Homo sapiens: one gene and its partner. The protein of the gene in region 1 purifies or fractionates together with the protein of each later gene. This does not show direct contact. Each region holds a gene or a part of one and is shown in the gene's direction. Other genes may lie near its edges.

The links.
Region 2: the proteins of KCNE3 (region 1) and YES1 purify together in Homo sapiens (co-immunoprecipitation; 2 studies listed by BioGRID and IntAct, with this or other methods). This does not show direct contact.

The regions. Positions count from the first base shown.
Region 1 is NC_000011.10:74,460,105-74,465,412, reverse strand, and holds part of KCNE3 (potassium voltage-gated channel subfamily E member 3), read left to right. Parts: exon of another isoform or gene 1-1,151; intron 1,152-2,557; exon of another isoform or gene 2,558-2,731; intron 2,732-3,280; exon of another isoform or gene 3,281-3,309; 5' UTR 3,310-3,458; intron 3,459-5,308. UniProt on the Homo sapiens protein: Ancillary protein that functions as a regulatory subunit of the voltage-gated potassium (Kv) channel complex composed of pore-forming and potassium-conducting alpha subunits and of regulatory beta subunits.
Region 2 is NC_000018.10:731,234-735,742, reverse strand, and holds part of YES1 (tyrosine-protein kinase Yes), read left to right. Parts: intron 1-2,777; coding exon 2,778-2,909; intron 2,910-4,509. UniProt on the Homo sapiens protein: Non-receptor protein tyrosine kinase that is involved in the regulation of cell growth and survival, apoptosis, cell-cell adhesion, cytoskeleton remodeling, and differentiation.

The DNA.
Region 1 (5,308 bases):
CTGACTGAGATGGCTTCTTTTCTTTGAGCCATCCCTTCCCCAGACCAAATGAAATCTGTTTTGCCCTGCCCTGGAGGTTGCTTTTTAAATATTGTAAACTGTTTTCATGAATGTATGTGCGTGTGCCAGAGCGGGGGAATGCTCTTAGAGAAGAGGCATTGATTCATTTATTCTTGAATGCCTGCTAGGTATCAGGGCTGGGAAATAAAGAAATGTATGAGGCACAGGACCCTGCCCTCTTACCTTAAAGCGCACAGTTACACACATACACATACACACACACACATACACACACACACACACACACACAGAGTTTCAGTACAGTATAGTGCTCTAATAAGCCTTCGTGCAAAGCACTTTTGGGAAAAAACAAGAGGGAGAGACTAACTGGCTAGGGAGTGAGGAAGGAGGAGTCCCAGGAGAAGGTCTGCAGAGATGAATTGGAGTTGGGTCTTGAAGGATGAGTAGGAGTTTGCCAGGCAGGTAAAAAGAGGAAGGGCATTCTTGTTTAAGAAAACAGCATGAGCAAAGGCAAGAGATGTGCAAGTGCAAGGAATATTTGGAGAGTGGCCTGTACTTCAGTGTCATGGGTGCAGGCCACTGAAAAGAGCTGTGGGGAGATGAGGCCAGTGTCAGAGTCACATTTCAAGGAGCTTCAGTGGTAATCAGAAGAGTTTAGAGTCTGCCCTACTGGCAGAAGGGAACTTATAGTGGAAAGGTCTGTGGAGGGGAAGTCAAGATACTTGGTTTCTGGCTCCAACTCTGCCACTACTGAGCTGTGAGACCTTAAGCAGGTGATTCCCTTGGGGAGGAGGGTCTATTTTCCCACTGGTTGAATGAGGGGGTTGCACCAACAACATGATCATGAAGATCTCTTCCAGCTCAGATTCTATTCCTTTGTCCTTCCAACTGGATGCTAAGGGCTACTCCTTCAACTCCTCTCCCACTCCACCAGCTCTCCAATCCACAGGAGTGGTAAGACCACCAAGGGGACAGTGGTAAAACTGTGCACCCCAGGAACTGTCTTTGGATCACCTACCTGCTTTATGTGACTTTTTCTACCTACCTCTCTGTACTTCATTTCCAGACACTGAAGACGCTCATTCTGAAAGAGTAGCTGAAACGGAGTGACGGGAAAGAAAGACCCAAGGGTAGAGTTTCACTTTTCCCCAGAGCAACCTGAATGAAAACCCCACTAAGATCCCCAGTTCATCCCTCAGATCACAGCTTTATTCCCCAACTTCCAAGTTAGGGGTTGGACAAGTGTAAGGCAAGTGCAGTTTGTGAGAACCTGTGAATGTATGGGAAATAGCAGGAACAGAGAGTGAACCTGGCTCATCTGGGGAATCAGGAGTAGGTCTGGAGCAGTGGGGTGCATGGAAGATGAGAGCATAAACGAAGTCTAACTCCTCCTCCCAAGCTTACCAACCTCCATCTCACTGGATCATTGACTAAGATTGGCGAGAATCTGTGGTGCATGAAAAGGCCATAGTGACGAAGTTAGAGGAGATGATGCCCCATGACACTAACAGGCTGTGTCTGGTGTGATGTGAAGCTTAGGTGTGAGGAAACACTGCCATTTGTAGTGGAAAGAGCACCTGAACAGTAGCCCAAACACCTGGGTTCTTGTCTGAGTGCTGCCATTTATGGGCCATGTCATTTTGGACTAGTCACTTCTCCCTTCTGAGCCTCAGTTTCCTCATCTACGAAATGGAGGGGTTGGCCTGGAATCTAGATTCTAGATGATCCTTAAAGTCCCTCTCAGCTTGGCCATCTGCTCACCTTCCTTCCTCACTGGCCTATCTTCTATTTCAAGGCAAGACCTCTCCAGGGCAGGAGCTCCATCTCCCCCATCCAAGGATCTCAGTAATCAGGGACTCTCCTGGACAGGGAAGCCAAGGAGCTCAGAAACAGTGGCAAAACTCCCCTGTTGCTGACTGCCAGTCCCCAGCTTGAGCCCCAGAGGCAGCCCCAGAGCCCCATAGAGAACCAACTTGTGCCTTCATCAGCTTTCTGCCTCTCCTAACGCAGACAGGAGGCCCTGGCACCCCAGCCTTCCCTCCCATACAAACCCAGCACCTAGAGATGTGGAACTATGGCCCCTTTCCTCCTCCTGTCAGAAGCACAAACATCCTAGTCTATTCAGAGAGACCCTGAGGCATGAAAGGTCTCATGAATCTTTATTCCCCTCATGGAACCCTGCCTCAAAGCCCACCCTACCCTCCACACTGTCCCCTTCCCCCACCTTCTGCAGAGTCTATCCCCTCCTCAGGCTAGATCATCCTGGCAGGTGAGCTGTGAAGAGGAAAAATGAGTAAATCTCTCAGTTTGGCTCGACTGGGATATTAGATGTCAGTCAGTCCCAGGGCTCAGAAGCATCTTAACCTGTGAGGAAGAGGTCCACAGCCTTCTCTATCTTGGGATTTGAGAAGCTCTAGAAAGCCCCCAAAATGCCTCTCCCATCAGCCTCTCCAACTTCCCATGGTCTCACAGCATGGTTTCATGATTCGTATCATCACAGGACGTTAGAACCAACTGAGACCCCTTCATTTTACAGATGCGGACAGAAGCTGAGGCCCAGAAAAGGGAAGTCTTATGTCCAAAGTCACACAAGGAGCAGCTGAGCTGGGACAACTCCCCTGGTTTCCATTTCCTTCACCGTAAAGTGAGGGCATATAGCCTAGATGGGCTCTGAAGGCCCTTCCAGCCTTGCTCTACAAAAACAACCACCGTATGTGCAGTGTCTAGTGCCAAGCACTACATGATGTTCTTTAATTTTCACAACAAAGCTATGCTACAGATAGTGTTCATTCTGTGACCGTGTTCATATCCTGTCTATCTGAATAGATTGGGTGGTAACACATCATTTGTTCCTATGTAAAATATCAACCCAGCTGCCAGTTGGCATTCTCCCACTCATGTCAATTCCCTTGGGATTCGAAAAGGACCTTGCTAAGGTAACCCTTAGGAAAGGGAATGTTTTAGGCTGCACCATCAGCTGGTCCCTGAGTGGGAGTCCACATTTTAAACAGGTTTCTCATGAAGTCACCCAGTGAAGACACTGTAAGTCTGGAGGTAGGGGACAGCAATCAGAGGCCCTTTGGTCACTGCACAGTTCCTTTAACTGCAACCCTAGGCTGGCCTGACCCAGCTGCTGCAGGAAGGGGAGGGGCCATGGGAGGGGGTCAGAGCCCACAGCAGGACTGTTGCATAATCCTTGGGGCCTGGCCTTGGGCAATCCACCCTGGTTCTGAAGTTTGTGCTTTGTGTCTGGTTCCTTCCTTTTCTGCCTTCTCTCCTGCTTTCTAGCTCTGGGCTTTCCCAGCTCCGAAGTCAATACTGAGATCCCAGATGTGTCCAGAGACATCCTGAAGAGGCTCGGGGGTGGAGGAGCCTTAGTGTGTCCACAAAGGGACTCCTGAAACTGACTGAGAGCCAGTGGATTTGCCAGCAGTCTGGTGAGTCTTCCAGATTGAGATTTCCCTCCCTCTCCCTGTCAGTTAAAACCCCTTTCCAATGATACCTAAGAAAACTGAATGGTAACTGCCCTGCCCTGGGATGGAGCTTGGGACGACTAGGAGCTTTCACCTTCACTGTATGTGCTGCGTCCATTCTTTTTTTTTTTTTTTAAACCTATGTGTACATATTTGCTTCTTGAAAATAAAAAAAAAGTTTTTAATCCTCTTCTACATAATACAAGTATATGCTCATAGCAAGCCTTGAAGGAGGAGGGAAAGGATGATCATCTTTCTTTGTGGGGTTTTTTGTTTGTTTGTTTGTTTGTTTTTTGAGACAGAGGTCTTGCTTTCCTGCCCAGGCTGGAGTGCAGTGGTGTGATCTCGGCTCACTGCAACTTCCACCTCCTGAGTTCAAGCGGTTCTCCTGCCTCAGCCTCCTGAGCAGCTGGGAATACAGGCGTGTACCCGGCTAATTTTTGTATTTTTAGTAGAGACGGGGTTTCTCCACGTTGGCCAGGCTGGTCTCGAACTCCTGACCTCAGGTGACCCACTGGCCTCAGCCTCCCAAAGTACCGGGATTAAAGGAGTGAGGCACCACAGCTGGCCTATTTTTTAAAATTGTGCTTAAAACACACACACACACACACACACACACACACACAAAACATAAAAATATACCATCTTAGTCATTCTTGAGTGTACACTCAGTAGTGTTAACTAGATTCACCTTGTTGTGCAGCAGATCCCCAGAATCTCCTCATCTTGTAAAATTGAAACTCTATACCTACCATACAACAACTCCATGATAATGTCTTTTGGTAGATGAGGAAACCAAAGCCCACCCAGGGAAAGGAACTTATTTCCTTCAGAGTAGGCTCATCAAGACACTTACACTGTTTGTTTGTTGTCTACCTATGAAATTGCCTGAGGCCCCTTCCTCCTTCAACCCTCACTTAGCCATTTCCTCCTCAGGTCTTACGACTGTCTCTACCCCCACTTCCCTACTTTGTTATCCTCTCTGCCCCAATTCATGACTCAGCATCTTACACTAAACTATTTCAAGACTCTGGTAGCTGGGCTCACTGCCTCAATTCCAGCTCCCTCCAGTCCACATGACAGCCAGAGTATCCTTTCCAGGCACAGATCTGACCATTTTATCTTCTTTTAAGATACCATTCCATGGCTTTTCCCTAGCTACAGAATAAAGTTCCAACTCTACAGCGTGGCACTCAAGGCCCCCCATGATCTGGATCCTCTCTCTCCTGCCCCACATCCTACACTATTCTTCCACACATCTTACACTCCAACCTCTTTATGCTACTTTCCATTCTTCTAAACATTTACACACTTTCTTGTTCTGCCTTTGCTCATGTTTCCTTCATCTTTTCTGCCTCTTAAAAACCCTTCAAGGTCCAACTCAAATGCCTCCATCACTGTGGACACTCTCTGAGCCCTGATCAGTATCCATCACTTATTCCTTTCAGCCTTAGTAGCTCTTTGCTTGTCCCCTGCATTGTATCAGAGCCCCTGGGCGAAGGCACTGGATCTGAGCCACCCCGAACTCCCATCACAGGGTGTGGCCCATATTGGTGATAACTATCTAGATTATTTTTTGAGTTATTTATTTCATCATGCTGCTCCTACTTGCTATTGGCCCACACGAGGGAAGCAGCAGCCACAGAGTTCTTGCCTGACACATGGGGTAGTAGATGAGAACGTGTATCTCCTGGATCTTAACTCAGTGAGCTCTTGTTCTTTTCCCCTCCTCCATCCAGACAAGGCAGCACAAGTACTAGATGTCAGAAGGCCCCAAAGGCCTTGCATGAAATGCTGCCCAGTCCTGGCTGATT
Region 2 (4,509 bases), on another chromosome or scaffold:
GTAGGTTTTTTTGTTTGTTTTTTTGAGACGGAGTCTCACTCTGTTGCCCAGCCCAGGCTGGAGTGTAGCGGCACGATCTCGGCTCACTGCAACTTCCGCCTCCCAGATTCAAGCGATTCTCCTGCCCCAGCCTCCCGAGTAGCTGGGATTACAGGCTCGTACCACCACACCCAGCTAATTTTTGTATTTTCAGTAGAGACGGGGTTTCACCTCCAACATGTAGTCTTTTATCCACCCCCCAACCTTTCCCCCTTACTCCCCAAAGTCCATTATATTACTCTTATGCCTTTGTGTCCTCATAGCTTAGCCCCACTTTTAAGTGAGACCATACAATATTTGGTTTTCCATCCCTGAGTTACTTCACTTAGAATAATGGCCTCTAGCTCTAAGTTTCTGCAAAAGACATTATTTCATTCCTTTTTACGGCTGAGTAGTATACCATGGTGTATATATGCCACATTTTTTTTTATCCACTCATTGGTCAATGGTCATTTAGATTGGCTCCATATCTGCAATTGCGAATTGTGCTGCTATAAACATTTGTGGATGTATCTTTTTCATATAATGATTTTTTTTTTTTTGCTTTGAGACACAGTCTCAATCTGTTGCCCAGGCTGGAGTGCAGTGGTACAATCTCAGCTCACTGCAACCTCCACCTCCCAGGTTCAAATGATTCTCCTGCCTCAGCCTCCCCTGTAGCTGGGATTACAGGCACCTGCCACCAGGCCCGGCTAATTTTTGTATTTTAGTAGAGACACGGTTTCACCATGTTGGCCACGCTGGTCTCAAACTCCTGACCTCAGGTGATCCACACGCCTTGGCTTCCCAAAGCGCTGGGATTACAGGCGTGAGCCACCACACCTGGCTGATTTCATTTCCTTTGGGAAGATACCCAGTAGTGGGTTTGCTGGATTGAATGGTAGTTCTGCTTTTCGTTCTTTAAGGAGTTTCCATACTGTTTTCCATAGTGGTTGTACTAATTTACATTCCCACCATCAGTGGAAAAATGTTCCCTTTTCACCACATCCACACCAACATCTATTGTTTTTTTTTTTTACTTATTCATTATGGCCATTCTTACAGGAGTAAGGTAGTGTCTCACTGTAGTTTTAATTTGCATTTCCCTGATGATTAGTGATGTTGTATGTTGTAGTTGCTCCTGGTTTTTTTTGTTTTGTTTTGTTTTTGAGATGGAGTCTCACTCTGTCACCCAGGCTGGAGTGCAGTGGCGCGATCTTGGCTCACTGCAAGCTCTGCCTCCCGGGTTCTCGCCATTCTGCCTAAGCCTCCCGAGTAGCTGGGACTACAGGTGCCTGCCACCAAGCTCGGCTAATTTTTTTTTTTGTATTTTTAGTAGTGACGGGGTTTTACCGTATTAGCCAGGATGGTCTCAATCTCCTGACCTCATGATCCGCCCACCTCGGCCTCCCAAAGTGCTGGGAATACAGGCGTGAGCCACCGCGCCTGGCCAAGTTTTGCTTTTTTGCCCAGACTGGAGTGAAGTGGCATGATCTTGGCTCACTGCAACCTCTGCCCCCCAGGTTCAAGCAATTCTCCTGCCTCAGCCTCCCGAGTAGCTGGGATTACAGGCATGCACCACCACACCTGGCTAAGTTTTGTATTTTTGGTACAGACAGGGTTTCACCGTGTTGGCCAGGCTGGTCTTGAACTCCTGACCTTAGGTGATCTGCCCACCTCGGCCTCTCAAATTGCTGGGATTATAGGCGTGAGCCACTGTGCCCAACCACCTGCCACTTTTTAAATAAAACATTTTGTAATGGTGCCAAGGAAAATTGATCATCTGTTTGTCTAAATATCTAAAGAACTCTGTTTTAAAACACTATCTACAAACACATATAAATAACTTAAAGAATGTAAGACACCTATAATATTATTTCTGCAATAAGTTTATAAACTTCATGAAAGCCATGCTTTTTTTTTTTTTTTTTTTTTTTTTTTTGAGACGGAGTCTCACTCTGTTGCCCAGGCTGGAGTGCAGTGGCGCAATCTCAGCTCACTGCAAGCTCCGCCTCCTGGGTTCACACCATTCTCCTGCCTCAGCCTCCCGAGTAGCTGGGACTACAGGCTCCTGCCACCTCGCCCAGCTAATTTTTTGTATTTTTGGTAGAGACGGGGTTTCACCATGTTAGCCAGGATGGTCTCAATCTCCTGACCTCATGATCCACTCACCTCGGCCTCCCAAAATGCTGGGATTACAGGCTTGAGCCACCGCGCCCGGCCGAAAGCCATGCTTTTTAGGTTTCCATAGTGATTAGCATAATGCCCTCCACAAAAAAGATATACAGTAAGTATTTGAGTTAATTAACATGGACTTTTAAAAGTAGTACAATAAAATTTTCCAGAATGATATAAAAAGTAGGAAAACCCATAAACATTATAACTCAATAGAATATTCACTCATCAACCAATAGTTAACTACAGCTATTAGGTGCCAGACTGTACTTAAAAGTTACACATATTATAACATGTATCTTTGGCTTACTAGAGCTTCAACCTCTATTTTCTTAAATTGTTTTCTGTTCCCACAGCCAACTTATTTTTTATATCATCAGCTGTCTAATCAGGAAGAAATGTGATTTATTTCAATATGAATTTTAAAAATTAAAGAATTTTTATCCCATGTATCTTGTACATTTAAAGAATTGACACTGATGACTACAGTAGAGATATTGACAGAACATTAGCCCTGCATATGCTATGTTTACACAAATAGATTTTTAAAAAACAATTAAGCAAGATGGTCAACATTATTTTAGGTGCAAAATTTCCAATCAAATGGACAGCTCCTGAAGCTGCACTGTATGGTCGGTTTACAATAAAGTCTGATGTCTGGTCATTTGGAATTCTGCAAACAGAACTAGTAACAAAGGGCCGAGTGCCATATCCAGGTAAGCTTGCATTTTATAGCTCTTGGTTATCTCATGAGTGGCTTTATCAGGAGTTTATTAGGAACAGAATTGTAAGCGGGGAAAAGGCCTTTATTTCTTCTCATAGTCCCCCTGCCTCTCCCTCTCCCCACTCCTTCCCTTTACTGTGGCATTGGATGGGTAACTGTGGCATTGGACGGGTAAGTCAGTGAAAGCCACGATCCTTGACAGGGTGAGCACATGAGATAGGCCCCACATTCACCTCAGCTTTCTCAGGACATTTTCCAAAGGGGCCTCTTACTGTTCTCTCAGATAATAAACATATCTTAAATATCCTGGCTCATCCACCCTATACCCTAAATAACTGTTCTTTCCCAGTAGTGTGATTGGTGTTTTGTTTTTTTTTTTTTTTTTTTTTTAAACACAGTCTTGCTCTGTCACCCAGGCTGGAGTGCAGTGGTACAGTCTGGCTCACTGCAACCTGTCTCCCGGGTTCAAGCAATTCTCCTGCCTCAGCCTCCCAAGTAGCTGGGATTACAGGCACCCACCACCACACCCAGCTAATTTTTTGTATTTTTAGTAGAGATGGGGTTTTGCCATGTTGGCTAAGCTGGTCTCGAACTCCTGACCTCAGGTGATCCACCTGCCTAGGCCTCCCAAAGTGCTGGGATTACAGGCGTGAGCCACCGTGCCCATCATGGTATATTTTTTTAAATATGTACTTGCCTTGTTTTCTTCAGTAGATTATTTTGAGATTCTTTTCTTGTTTTATTTCTCTAACCTATTTATAAACCAGCACTTTAATAAATATATCTGCCATTAATAAAGAGGAAAAATGAAAGTGTTTCCCTTTCAAAATTAAGAGACTTTTTTTTTTTTTTTTTTTTTGAAATGGAGTCTCGCTCTGTCGCCCAGGCTGGAGTGCAGTGGCACGATCTCAGCTCACTGCAGCCTCCACCTCCCAGCTTCACGCCATTCTCCTGCCTCAGCCTCCCGAGTAGCTAGGACTATAGGCACCCGCCACCACGCCCAGCTAATTTTTTGTATTTTTAGTAGAGACGGGGTTTCACCGTGTTAACCAGGATGGTCTCGATCTCCTGACCTTGTGATCTGCCCGCCTCGGCCTCCCAGAATGCTGGGATTACAGGCGTGAGCCACCGTGCCTGGCCTCAAAATTAAGAGATTTATATAGTTTCTAGGGGGAAGGAGAAATTTTAGCTCACTTGAAATTCAGCGATCAGTATTACTTTAGTTTGTTACTTCTAAACTCTTGTACTGAAGTATCCTAATGTTGAGAGTGAAAGCATATAAAATTTAATCTTTAGGAAAAACTGTTTTGCTAATCTTATGGGTTTTGCATGTTATCTAACATATTCCTCTTCCCTACAGTTCCCTCCAGCTGTAGATCTAATGCCATCAAATTTTATCACCCACTTTGTCTGGTTGCTGTTATTCACTGATACCATTCAAGTTATTCTCATTTAATGACTCACCATTGTCCTCTCCAACAAAACTCCTCTCCTGTCTTAACTCATTGTCATCTTAATACACATGGTGATGATTCTTCTATTACCCTGGTCTCTTGTAGCTTGAACTCTTCTCCTGTGTAATCTTGTCTTTC